Regions from separate parts of the Homo sapiens genome. Here region 1 is linked to region 2. The links come from fine-mapping of genetic effects on gene expression. Tissue or cell type: whole blood. Region 2 holds a variant in brackets; the other region holds the start of a gene. All regions are shown on one strand. Distances are between the middles of the regions.

Region 1 (2,658 bases), 73 kb before region 2:
TGCCAAGGGAAGACGGCAGGCACAGAGGGGAGGCTGAGGACCCATCAGGGTAGGTTCAAGCCTCTCTGAGCCTGCTTCATCTTCTGAGAGAGCAGATAAAAACCCCACCTTCTGTGTTGAAAGTAAACCCCCTTGTAGAGAGCCTGAGACACCCACATCCTCAGTGGACTTCTGCTTATGCCTCAGGATCTGACCGGGTCAGAGTCCCCGAGAGCTCCCAGGCTAGGGGCCCAGAGGAAGGGGTGCTGGAGCCCCTTGGGGCCGATGACTTTCAGGCCTGAGCTCCTCTGCCATTCACCCTGCCCCAGCCAGCACTGCCAGAGGCCTGTGCAGGAGGGAGGGAAACGCATGACTCCGCCCGAAACCAGGTCACCCTCCCGTGGCAGCCCCACCAGCCCAAGGGCCGAGACTGAAGCTTCCGCCACAGCCCTCCCCTCCCCACTCCTGGCGGAGGCCTGGGAAGTCGAACTGCCCTCCCCTCCGCAGCGCTCCAAGCCCCCCACCACCCAGGCGGGAAACTGCAAAGTTCAGACGGGGCGGGGGTGGCGGTGGCTTCATCGTTTGCATTGATGAGTGCGTCGCCTGCGGCCACAGCGGTGCCACGAACTCCATCCCCTCGGCGGTCGCCGCCCGCGATCCCCGCGAGCCGCTCCCCGAGGTCCCGCCTCCCGTCCCACCATCCCGGGCCCTGACTCCCCGGGGCGCCGACGCGAGGGGACCCGGCCTCCGTCTCCACCTCCATCCCTGCATGTGCCAGAAACCCCCGGGCGGACTCCCGCGCCTGCCGGTCAGTCCCTCTGAATCTTCTCCCGCGGGGGCTCGGGAGAAAGAGCTGCTCCGAGCCCCCAAAGTCTTCCTGAGTTCCTGCGCCCGTCGGGAGGGGCCGCCCTCCGGGAGCTCCTCTCCACACCCCGAGGCCTCCCCACCACGCCTCAGCCCGCGCTTCTCCTTGGAGCGTCGGAAGCCTCGGGTGTTCGAGGCCGCCTCCTCCAAGAAGCCTTCCAGACTTCCCCGTCTGCGCTTCAGTGCTAGTTCCCTCCGCCGTCCTCACTCGACCCCGAGCCCCTGCCTCCCCCGTCTCACTGCCCCGGAGCCGCAGGCTCAGGCACATTTCCAGCCCCGGGACCTGCTCAGCCGGGCCGCGGCGCCCCGGGACCCCCGCCCGCCTTTGGCTCTCACAGCGGGGCCTCACCGGTGCGCAGAGCCAGGAGCAGCCACAGAGCCCCGCTCGGACCCCGCATGGCGCCGTCGGGGCTGGCTGGGGCCGGGCTGGGGCTGGGTCCGGGTCCGAGGAGGTCCGCAGCAGCCGGGCTTCCTCCCTGCTCCCCCTCGCGCTGGCCCGAGCTCCTTAAGTGCGGCCGCGAGTTCCCGGGCGGAATCCACGCCCCTGGGGCGCAGGTCACCTCCCGCCGACCCCGGACCCCGCCCCTGGGCGGCCCCGGCGCGCCCCCTGCTGGAGGCCTCCCGCTCGGGCCCGGGCGCCGCTGCTCGGGGCTCTCGCCTCAGCCTCCTACCCCGCGTTCCAGGGTATCCTCCCCTCCTCGCGCCCTAGAAAGACTCCAGATACCGTGTCTAACTGGAGAGAGAAAAGCTCAGACGTGGAAGGAAGGAGAGGTCAGAATCCCAGAGTCGGGGCTGGAGGGCAGCTGGAGGATGATCTCATTCACGCAGCAGCTCCCTCCCAGCACAGCTGCACAGAGGATCTGGGATACGGGGGAGCCCAGGCCGAGCGCCCTGGCGAGGGGGGAGCCGGGCAGGGGCATCTCGGCCACAGCTGCACAGAGGATCTGGGATACGGGGGAGCCCAGGCCGAGCGCCCTGGCGAGGGGGGAGCCGGGCAGGGGCATCTCGGCCACAGCTGCACAGAGGATCTGGGATACGGGGGAGCCCAGGCCGAGCGCCCTGGCGAGGGGGGAGCCGGGCAGGGGCATCTCGGCCACAGCTGCACAGAGGATCTGGGATACGGGGGAGCCCAGGCCGAGCGCCCTGGCGAGGGGGGAGCCGGGCAGGGGCATCTCGGCCTAGCCGACTGCCTCTCCTCGGGCCTAGAGACGGGAGGTGACTTGCCCGAGTCAGGCATCCAGTCAGTGGCAGAGCCAGCTGATTGGAAGGTGAGAAGAGGACCAGAGAGGAATTGGAGGAAGCGGAAAAGGAGAAACAGGCGGAGAAGGGGAGGAAGAGAGTGAAGAAGGTGAGGGAGGAAAGGGTGGGTTGACCGTATTTCTAGGACAGTGGTTCTCAGTGTGGTCCCTAGGCCAGCAACGTGAGCATCACCCTGGAACTTGCTGGAAATGCAAGTGCTCAGGCCCCACCTCCGACCCACTGGATCGACAGCTCTGGGGGCGGGGCCCACAATCTGTTTTTATTTCGGGGCACAGCAAATGTTGAGAACCACTGTCGCAGGCGGGCAAAAGCGGCACTCCCCATGTGGTTGGGGATGCGGGGAATGAACTGAAGACATTGTTAGTCACCTGCCTCCATTTAGGCCTCACCTTTATGTCATCAGCCCCTCTGAGACTCAGAAATGATGTCTCTCTCTGACATGGGTAAGTACAACAGTGAGAGAGAAGACATCCCTCTGAGTTTGTCTGTCCTTGAGCTTGCTCTGCGCCCTGGGGAAGGAAGGCCTCCCTCCTATGGGGCCATGAAGCTACTGCT
Region 2 (2,841 bases):
AGTAGAGACGGGGTTTCACCGTGTTAGCCAGAATGGTCTCTATCTCCTGACCTCGTGATCTGCCCGCCTAGGCCTCCCAAAATGCTGGGATTACAGGCGTGAGCCACCGCGCCTGGCCAAGAGATTCTTAAACTATAGGAAGTATGTGATAAAACTTTATAACTTTGGGATATGGAGTCCAAAACGAGTATAGTATTATATTTCCAGTTCCCATGTTCGATTATTTTTATTTTTATTTTGAGACGGGGTCTCACTCTGTCGCCCAGGCTCAAGTGCAGTGGTGAGATCATAGCAATCCTGCCTTGGCTGGGACTACGGGTGCGCACTACCACGCATGGCTAATTAAAAAACTTTAAAAAAAGTTTTAGCAGAGACAAGATCTTGCTATGTTGCCCAGGCTGGTCTCGAACTCCTGGGCTCAAGTAATCCTCCCACCTAGGCCTTCCAAAGTGCTGGGATTAGAGGCCTGAGCCACCACGTCCAGCTAATTTCTGATAATGATTCTCCAAAAAGATTAACAGTAAAGGCCCCCCAAAGTGAATTATTCCTTGCCTTTGGAATTAATAAAACTGAAAGGAGTTAGAAGATAATGTTCCTTCATATGTCTTGTAGAGATTATTTTTTCTCATAATCAGAATCCAAGTCAAGAAAGTTCAAAGTACACAAGCTGAAAAACCCATAAAAGTACTTTTTTGGAAGACTAATAAGGCAAACCATAGATCCTGAAAGATAAAAAACTTAATTCTACCAAAAGCTTACCTTTGTCTCTATCTGTCTGTCTTGTATGTATATATATAAGATTATCAACAAGGCAGAGAATCCCAAGCCTTTAGGAAAGATACTAACTGCAAGATGCTGATTATCAGAGTGTCGGATGACTCCTTTTGTACTTCTTAAAATCCGATTTGTGTTAATGTTTTTGTGTTGTGTGTGCGTGTAGCTAACCTGTTACTAAGCTTTGATGCTTTTCCCCACCTCTTATTATCTTTGTATGAATGTGAGGCTACTTTTAAATTACTTATTACTGGGGCTGGGGGCTGTGGCTCACGCCTGTAATCCCAGCACTTTGGGAGGCCGAGGCAGGCAGATCACCTGAGGTCAGGAGACCAGTCTGGCCAACATGGTGAAACCCCGTCGCTATTAAAAATACAAAAATAAGCCGGGCGTGGTGGCAGGTGCCTGTAATCCCACCTACTTGGGAGGCTTGAACCTGGGAGGCGGAGGTTACAGTGAGCCGAGATTGTGCCACTGCACTCCAGCCTGGGCAAGAGAGTGAAACTCCATCTTAAAACAAACAAAAAAAATTACTTATTACTTTGCTAGATTTTGCTAGAGTAGCTATTCCAGAAAGTCGAGGGGTGCAGGAAAGATAGAGGCACAGGACATTTTTACAGGTTTTAAAACCCAAATACTGTCACATTATCTGATCCTACAGAGGCAGGCTGCTTTATCCAAATACGGGTCCTCTGCTTTTCTAAACCAAACCACATTATGAGTGAAATTTTATACCATA[T/A]CCTAAATTTGTGCCATCACAAACATTCTCAACATTCCATATTTTAACTCTTCCCCTCTTTCCGTGTGGCTTCTGCAAGACCTCAGCTGCTTAAGGAGTCTTTACCTCTACTTGGTTGTCCAGGTATCATACCTGCCTTCTTAGTTTTAGTTAATATTAAGTGAAGTTGTGTGGGTAGGAGCATGCGTGTATGTTTTGTTTTTCTTACTGCTTTTGTGTGTTCTGTGTGTTTTGAGGTTAGGGAGCAGATATTAAGTTACCCGTAACCATACCTAAAAAGTTTATATTCCTTATAAACATATAAATGAGAGGCTGTCTATAATACTAAGGAACCAGTGACTGTAACTCGGCTTCCATATAGTGTACCTACGGGGTGGAATATGTTGGCCAGAAGATAAAAGTACAACATAGGGTCCCATTGGCAGATTTGTTTCTCACAAAAATTAACGAATTGACATTCTGACTTCATACGTTAGTCTCTATTGTTTGGTTAATGTGAATTAATATTCAGAATTTACTCCCAATTAAACAAATTTTCCCCTGTTTAGTTACTAAGCCTAAAAGGCCAAGGTTTTACTAGATTGATAGAACCTCCCATACTTAAGAAAGACCAAGCAATGCTCAACATGCTGCTTTGATCAGCTAAAAAACATACTAGATTAAAAAAGAAATTCTGCTTCAAAAAAGAATAAATGTAATTAGTTGATAAATTACAGAATTACTCATTTAGCTCCTTTACTCACATCATCTTTTCCTTATTCATCATGTTGTTTATGAGCATCAACAAATATGCTATGTATTCTTTTGGGTATTTAAGCTTTCTAAATTCCACTGAGGTTTTATTGGAGATGTGGTTATGCTGATGTACACTAGAGTCTTACATATGTTTACTATGGCATGACCTCAAATTCTCCATCACCACCTTCTTCCCCCAGGAACTTAGTAAAGTCACATCCACCATACTTCACCATCTAGACACACAGTATACTCCAAACTTGGCATTCTTCTCTTTATTTTAAATAGCGGCAGTAACAGCTATTAGAAACATGTCTTAAATCTTGATATTAATAATTATAACCTAATTCAAAAGCTAGAAAAAATCTGGGTGACCTAATTTTTTTGGGCATTATTACTATATCTGCTTATGGTTTTTATTATTTTTTCAGATCAATAAAGTAGTAAAAGGGACATTAAAAGCTATGTCTTCAGTTACAGAACAGATTTAAAAAAGTAAACAGTTAAATTAACCCACATAATGGGGGTTTTGTGGGTTAAGCTTGTGGATGCCAGTTCCCACATCATTAAAAAATACTTTTGGCAGGGTGCAG

What was found. PIP is the estimated chance that this variant, and not a neighbour inherited with it, causes the effect.
Region 1: it holds the start of MELTF, and the variant in region 2 is fine-mapped to the expression of MELTF in whole blood (TOPMed, PIP above 0.99).

Annotation. Positions count from the first base shown.
Region 1 is chr3:197,028,462-197,031,119 of GRCh38, forward strand. MELTF (melanotransferrin) reads right to left here and starts at 1,356. Exons shown (of 16, transcript NM_005929.6): 1 at 1,193-1,356. The coding sequence starts at 1,241. RefSeq lists silencers at 619-798, 989-1,038, 1,089-1,578 and enhancers at 1,112-1,748, 1,749-2,385.
Region 2 is chr3:197,101,571-197,104,411 of GRCh38, forward strand. The region is part of intron 14 of DLG1 (discs large MAGUK scaffold protein 1); the gene reads right to left. Among named protein-coding and RNA genes, the nearest start is that of MELTF, 73 kb to the left of the region's middle. The variant T/A (reference allele first, on the strand shown) is at 1,514.